2 linked regions of the Homo sapiens genome follow. The protein of the gene in region 1 interacts with the protein of each later gene in a biochemical or structural test. Each region holds a gene or a part of one and is shown on either strand. Other genes may lie near its edges.

What was found.
Region 2: the proteins of KIRREL1 (region 1) and TJP1 form a complex in vitro, tested with the Homo sapiens proteins (3 studies listed by BioGRID and IntAct, with this or other methods).

Annotation. Positions count from the first base shown.
Region 1 is NC_000001.11:158,080,504-158,084,422, forward strand, and holds part of KIRREL1 (kin of IRRE-like protein 1 isoform 1 precursor), read left to right. Parts: intron 1-3,918; coding exon 3,919-3,919. UniProt on the Homo sapiens protein: Required for proper function of the glomerular filtration barrier. It is involved in the maintenance of a stable podocyte architecture with interdigitating foot processes connected by specialized cell-cell junctions, known as the slit diaphragm.
Region 2 is NC_000015.10:29,710,820-29,714,738, reverse strand, and holds part of TJP1 (tight junction protein 1), read left to right. Parts: intron 1-2,328; coding exon of another isoform or gene 2,329-2,379; intron 2,380-3,738; coding exon 3,739-3,908; intron 3,909-3,919. UniProt on the Homo sapiens protein: TJP1, TJP2, and TJP3 are closely related scaffolding proteins that link tight junction (TJ) transmembrane proteins such as claudins, junctional adhesion molecules, and occludin to the actin cytoskeleton.

The sequences.
Region 1 (3,919 bases):
GTGGGTATTGAAGGTATGGTCCTTGCTGGCCTGCCTGGGTGACTTGGGTGGATGAGAGAACAGGGAGAGACCCCAGGAGTAACTTTAAGCTGAAAGAGAGACAGGGACGGTTAGTGCAGCTGGAGGGGCTTTACACGCCTGGGCAAACACCTGGGCATGGTGTCTCCTCGGGGCTCTACCCATCCAGGATCTTCCTCCCGGGTGTGGCAGCAACATGTGACCTTAGAGGGGCCTGAGCAGACCAGGAGGCCCTTCTCCCTTCACTCTTTCCTCTCCTTGTCTTTCTCTTAAATTCTCAAACACCCTGCCACCTGCAGCACACGGAGGCAATAAGAAGGCATGACACTTCCTGCATCCCTTCCTGCGTACCTGCTTACCCACAGCCTTTGCTCATGGCAGCTGGGGGACCCAGAGACTAGGCAGGGCAGAAATGAGGAGTGGGCTGTGCCCAGTGCCTGGTATCAGCCTCCCTGCATGATGTCAGCCTTATAGACTCCTCTCCTCCCCAGCCATCCCCCTCAGCAGCCCCCCAGCTCCCCAGGCCAGGGGCCCTCTTCACAAAATGGCCTCTGTCATTCTTCCTTAGGGTAGGACTTTGAAAAGAAGCCTCCCACTCCCCCGCAGATGCAGACATAACATAGATATACAGACCTCCAAAACCATGGTGATGAGCATGACTTCTGGGTCAGGCAAGCCTGGTCCACATCCTAGCTCTGCCCTCTAACTCACTCTCCTGTCTCTGAGCACATTTGTTTATCCTCTTCGAGCCTCCGTTCCTTATCTGTAAATTGGGGTTAATATATTTACCATGAAAGGAATAATGAAATATACTTTGTGGTAGGGATTAAATGAAGTCATATACAGGAGGCACTTTGGCTGACACAAGGTGAACGTTCACTGAGTGGCAGAAGTTATTGTCGATCCCACCACCATTTACAGTTGGCTTCACCTTCTTGATTTTGTTTTGCAAAATCAGGGGAGTAGGTGTCCATTGTATTTTTGAAGTTTTATAAACAAGGAGACTGAGGCTTTTTTGACCACAGACTCAGGGGCACATGAGTTTGGGGAGGCACATGAGCATATTGATATACAGATTTAAGTCACAAACCATAAAAACTTGCTTATAAACACATGCACACATGGACACATGCCCTTTAACAGCTGGCTCAGCAGGCACCTTAACAGCTTTATTGTCATTTGTCCCATATATGAGGGACGAGCTCATATATGAGGGATGAGCTCACGGAGGATGGGCAGAGAGTTTGGAAAATTCAGAGAAAGGTAGACTGCTGGCAGAGGTGACAGATGGGTAGTCTTTGCATGAACAAAGGGGCAGGAGGCATTCCCAGGGTAGAGGAAGCTGATGCCTTCCCAGCGGAGGGGCTTCACACACCCGGGCACACACCTGGGCATGTTGTCTGCTCGGGGCTCTGCCCATCCAGGATCTTCCTCCTGGGTGTGGCAGCAACATGTGACTTTAGAGGGGCCTGAGCAGACCAGGAGGCCCTGAGCAGCAGCTCTTTATTCATTTCTCTCCACCTTTCTCTACTTTTCAAGCTGCTCCCCATCCCCATCCTCAAACCTGTCCCCATCTGGCATTGGAACCAGATACACCACAGAACAAGGAGGAAGAGCCAGGGATTCAGAGGATAATTAGCCAGGCAGGAGTTGGAGCCACTGCTACTCTCGTCCAGGCAGTAAGGCTAATACATTCCATACCTCACACATGCCCTGCACATCATAGTCTATGTATAGTATCTCATCTGACCTTCATGAGGCTCTAGTGAGTATGGTTATGTCTTGGTTTCTTCTCTGATGAAGAAACTGAGACTCAGTGATTTTAGGAACTCATCCGAGATCACACAGCAGGTAAACAAAGGTGCCAGGATTTGAAACCAGGCAGTCTGAATCTAAGTTTTATTCTTTTTCCACTATACCACTAGGCACACATGAGTTGAACAGAATGCTAAGACAGGTTTCGAGTAGTTTCTACTGGAAACCCCAGCATAGAGACCTTCATTGTGTAAATTCTAGAACAGCCCTGTCCACCACTGGGCACCGTGGGTCTCCCAAGATCTCCTCTTGAGTGTTCCCTCTGCACACTCCTCTCGAGTGTTCCCTCTGGACCCTCCTCTGGGTCTTTCTTGTCTTTCCCAGAAAGAAGCAAACAAAATCTTTTATCGGTGGAGCACGCTGGCTCATGCTTGTAATCCCAGCACTTTGGGAAGCTGAGGTAGGAGGACTGCTTGAGCCCAGGAGTTTCAGACCAGCCTGGGCAACATAGCGAAACCTCGTCTCTACAAAAAATAGAAATTAGCCAAGCATGATGGTGTGTACCTGTAGTTTCTGATACTTGGGAAGCCGAGGTGGGAGGATTGCTTGAGCCCAGGAGTTCCTTTCTCATTTATGGTTGATGAACACTGGGGGGACCAGAAAAATTATAATCAAAATCCTTCTGCCTTTATTTCATCAGTATCCATTCATTAATTCAGCAAATATCCCTGAGCACCTGTGATCACCCAAGCCCTGGGCTAGACATTGAAGTGTTGATGGTATATCAGAAGCAGCCGCTACCCTCAGGGAACTTACAGTCTGGTTTGTCTTAGAAGCCTATGGAGATAGGGGAGGGAGAGCCCCCCTTGTTTGCAACATCATACATCGGTCAATTGAATTCTTTAAACATTTAGCAAGAGCCTACTTGGTCACATTCTAGGCACTGGTGACCATATAAATATTAGTGAGACAGGGTTGCTGTTTTTCCAGGGGATCACAGTTTTGGTTGGGGCAGGGTTCGATAACTGTTATAAGTAAACAAAATCCAAGGCGCTAAGAGCTCTGAGTGACTGGTGGGGGCCACCATGGTGGGGGTGGGCTACAGCATGGAAAGCCTTGTGCATCAACTGGGATTTGAACAGGATAGGAAGCACTTCAATAGAAGCTGTGGGAGAAGGGCATGCCATATGGAAAGCACTGCAATGCAGGTCTTGGCTTGAGGACCCTGAACAGGAGGCCGAAATGCTTGGAACTTATGCCCTAGGCAGTTGTAGCCATTGAAGGTGCTTGAGCAGGGGAGTGGCACATACTTAGCTGTGCTGAAGGGAAAAATAACCTGCTAGCAGTGTGACATGGAGGTTACTGTAATAGGCCAGCCCATCTGTCTGCTCCAGGGCAGAGGAGCAGACAGGAGGAAGGATGGGAGAAGTGCTATGGAGGTAGCCACCTTTCCGAGCCAGACTCCCAAGACTATGAGCTGTACTCAGGGCCTGAGATAGCCCAGCCCTTTCTTAAGTTTGAGGCTTCCATCTGTAGTGTGCAGCTCTGAGCAACTGTAGGGGTATGGAGCCAGGCACAGTGGTTCACGCCTGTAATCCCAGCACTTTGGGAGGCTGAGGCAGGTGGATCACCTGAGAGGTCAGGAGTTCGAGACCAGTCTGGCCAACATGGTGAAACCCCTACTCTCTACTAAAAATACAAAAATTAGCTGGGAGCAGTGGTGGGCGCCTATAATCCCAGCTACTTGGGAGGCTGGGGCAGGAGAATCGCTTGAACCCAGGAGGTGGAGGTTACAGTGAGCTGAGATGGCACCACTGCACTCCAGCCTGGGCGACAGAGTGACACTCCATCTCAAAAACAAACAAACAAACAAACAATAAACCAGTAGGGGCATGGAGTACCAGAAAATATTATAGGCCAGGAAAGAAAAGCAGACAAGGACTGGGAAAGATGTGTGAGCTGAGGACCTAGAGGAAGCCACCACAAGAGCAATGAAGACAGTGGTTGTAGATTAGGGGGTAGGGTGGTACCGCCTACCTAGAGGCGCACATGCAGGTGGAAGGATGCTTCCAGAGGCAGGAGTTTTGGTCTTCAGGGAAGTGTTAGCCACACCCTGCACTGACTTTGCTCTGCTTTCTCCCACAGT
Region 2 (3,919 bases), on another chromosome or scaffold:
AAACCCCATCTCTACTAAAAATACAAAAAAATCAGCGGGGCGTGGTGGCGGGCTCCTATAGTCCCAGCTACTCGGGAGACTGAGGCAGGAGAATGGCGTGAACCCGGGAGACAGAGCTTGCAGTGAGCCGAGATCGTGCCACTGGACTCCAGCTTGGGCAACAGAGTGAGACTCTGTCTCAAAAAAAAAAAAAAAAAAAAAGGCTGGGCGCAGTGGCTCACGCCTGTACTCCCAGCACTTTGGGAGGCCGAGGTGGGTGGATCATGAGGTCAGGAGATCGAGACCATCCTGGCTAATATGGTGAAACCCTGTCTCTACTAAAAATACAAAAAATTACCTGGGCATGGTGGCAGGTGCCTGTAGTCCCAGCTACTCTGGAGGCTGAGGCAGGAGAATGGCATGAACCCGGGAGGCGGAGCTTGCAATGAGCCGAGATCGCGCCACTGCACTCCAGTCTGGGCGACAGAGCCAGACTCATCTCAAAAAAAAAAAGGAGTATATTTAGGTCTAAAAAGTAAGTTGTTTTGCCAGGGAATCAATCAAAATGCATGTTTGCTTTCTGTGTTAATTTGTTTTTCTAGAAAGAAGACTTAGCTTATTTGTGATGTATAACTTTAGGGTGTAGAACATTGCCTTGCATGCAGTAGGGGCTCAGTAATTGTTGAGTGAATGAAGCTCAAAACAGGGCATGGTATACTAGGTGCATCCACCACCCTTCTTTTCATTAACACAGCTCTGGAAGGAACCTGTATTACCTGGTCATTGTTTTCACAGGGATATATTGTGAAACAGATGACATCTGTCTTTGTGAATTTACTCAGAACTCAGTTTGATTTTACTCCCTGCTGCTGTGAGAGAGAAAAGTATAGTTTGGGCTGGATACCAGTATACTTTTTTTTCCTTTGTAGTGTGAAATTGAAACTCTTTATAATTGTGCTGCATTTTCCCATATAGGTATTTAATGGTTAGAGAAATGGAAAGGAGAATAAGGGTCATGGAAGATAACTAAGAGGGTAGTTGTTTCTGTAAGTTTCCCTTGTAATGCTTTTTCATACTCTTGTCCAATGAGTACAACTTCATCAACTGGAAAATAGCTTAAAATATAGGATTCTGTCCTGCATTTCAAAACCATTTACTGTTTGTCACTAAATAAGACTGCCTTCAGGCATTTCTTTCTTTCAGTAAATACAGGAGTAGCAAAATTTTCTTCCTTCAGATGATGTGTGCTTATGCTTCACTTAAAAACACACCTCAGAAATGGTGAGAATTAGATATGGAAAATAATCTTTGTTAGCACAGGACAGATGCCCCAGGAAGCAAGCAGATATTACCCAGTCTAACAGTTCCATAGAGCTGGATTAGAACTGGAAAGGTTAGGAGACAGTAGCTTAGACATTCACCTCCAAAGTAAATTAGAAGTTTCCAGGATTCTAAAACAGTGCAAGAAGAGCAGTGTCCCTCCAGGGCTGTGCACATGTCTCAGTCCAGAGATTGAGTCAACTTCTTCAGGACAACCAGGGATTTTTTGTTATCAAATCTACCTTTCAGGACTCAACTCACTATGTGAGACTTCCAGGTCTCAATAAATGATGGTGGTTTGTAGCTTTTAAAGAACTAAATGTGAGAGACTGATGTTCAGTTGTTTTTGTGTTTGTGAGACATCATTAGATGAGAGAGAGCCTGAGCATCAAGCATGCAGCTTCACCAGTAAGACTCCACCACCACAGGGCCCAGCTTACGATTGGAGATGGAGGAGGTCTTGCTAGAAAGGAACATGTGAAGCCTGGCCAGGTTTCAAGCCAGGCATATTTCTATCTCTCCATTTACCATTCCCCTCCCAGGGGCTCAATGTAGCTCTTCTGTTGTGTTACTTTTTCCTGTGTCTTCACTTGCAGAATTTCTTTGCCCAGCCTTTTTTTTTTTTTTTTTAATGGGACATGTCACTCCCACTTATTCAGAACCTGCTAATTATCCTTGATCACCACTCTTTGATTTGATAAATTTCTTTGCTCACTATTAGCAGCTGCAACAGAGGTGGAGAAGGAGCAAAGTTCAAACACATTGCTTTTCACTGCAGTAACAGTTAAAGTACATGAAGGATGGGCCAGCAGACGGGACATAACTAAGTGATTGTGTTTTATTTATCTTCAATTTCCTTGGCCAAATGAGAGTTAGTGATATGTTCCTTTATAGACCAAATTATGGTGAAATGGTGGATGTTGGTTGATATTTTTAAATGACATTTGAGTTCCATTTGCTGCAAATTTACTTAGTTAGATTGACCATTTTCTTTCATTTTTCTATTGCGCTTGCTTTGCCATCACCTAGATTTCTTGGCTCTTACACTAGCTATGACTACTTGAAAAGGAACGTCAAGTGGTAAGACTGGCAATTAATGTGAGGCTGTTCCATAAGGTGTCCCTCACTGTGTCACTGGCATTATGTGCACTTTCAGATTTTAATGTCATCATCAAGGGCTTAGTCTAAATTCATGAAAGCAAGATAAAAAAGCCAATCATAAGACTTCTTCAATGAAAATTTATGAAAATGACCAGGAGTATTCCAAATGTATATGTTATTGTTGGTGCACATAAAGCTAGTGCAGCTTTGGCATTCAGCAGTAAGGTTTAGATGGCAATGTTGCAATTATGGGTCTTTTAAAAAGATTTGTGTGAATTTTGTGTTACATATTAACAATTGGCAATCTGAAAAAATAAACATACATGGCACAATTTGACTTAAATGAACCTTGTAAAATAAAGCAGGATCTGCTGCTCTAGCAGTCATTTAACCAAAAAATGGACCTGGTAACTCAAGGGGAAATTTTAAAGTAAAAGCTCCAGTTTTTTTAGTTTTACTGAAACGCAGATATGCCCATTGTCTGTGGCTGCTTCAAGGCTATAACCGCATAATTTGAATAGTTCTAACAAAGACTGTATGGGCCAAAAGACCACAAACATTTACTCTCTGGTGTTTCAGTGAAAAAGTTTGCCAACCCCTAGTCTGTGACATCTGTTTTTATGGTGCTCCGAGTATGCCAGATGCCAGATACAAAATCAGAAGTGGGTCTAGGGCCGGGTGCGGTGGCTCATGCCTGTAATCCCAGCACTTTTAAGAAGCAGAGGCAGGCGGCTCACTTGAGGTCAGGAGTTCAAGACCAGCCTGGACAACGTGGTGAAACGCCATCTCTACTAAAAGTACAAAAATTAGCCAGGCGTGGTGGCTGGCATCTGTAATCCCAGCTACTCGGGAGGCTGAGGCAGAAGAATCACTTGAGCCTGGGAGGCAGAGGTTGTGGTAAACTGAGATCGCGCCACTGCACTCCAGTCTGGGCGACAGAATGAGACCCTGTCTCAAAAACAAAAAAAGTGGGTCTCAGGAAAATTTGTGCCATGATATGTTTTCAGAATATTTGCAAGACTTTCTTAAATCTGTCAACATTACTATCTTTTGTAAATAACAATTAAACTATACCCAAAATTTCACCTGCCTTTGGTTGCCATCTTCTGGATGTTTTACTAATATTCTTAAAGTTTTTGTGTGTCTGGACATTTCTTGTGCCGATGAATGGTCGAATCTGTTTTTATATTTTGGTAGAGTAGCTACCCATACTCATGAGAATAAATTGTGAAATTTCTAGTTTTTTTTTTTAACTTAGAGATACATGGAGAAATGAGAACTTGTTTTGTAAATGTGAGTCCATTTTCAGGTGTTGGCATTTTCTTCATTTGTTAACAGGGGAAAGCCTCCTGAAGCTGATGGTGTGGATAGATCATTTGGCGAGAAACGCTATGAACCCATCCAGGCCACTCCCCCTCCTCCTCCATTGCCCTCGCAGTATGCCCAGCCATCTCAGCCTGTCACCAGCGCGTCTCTCCACATACATTCTAAGGGAGCACATGGTGAAGGTAGGAAGTTC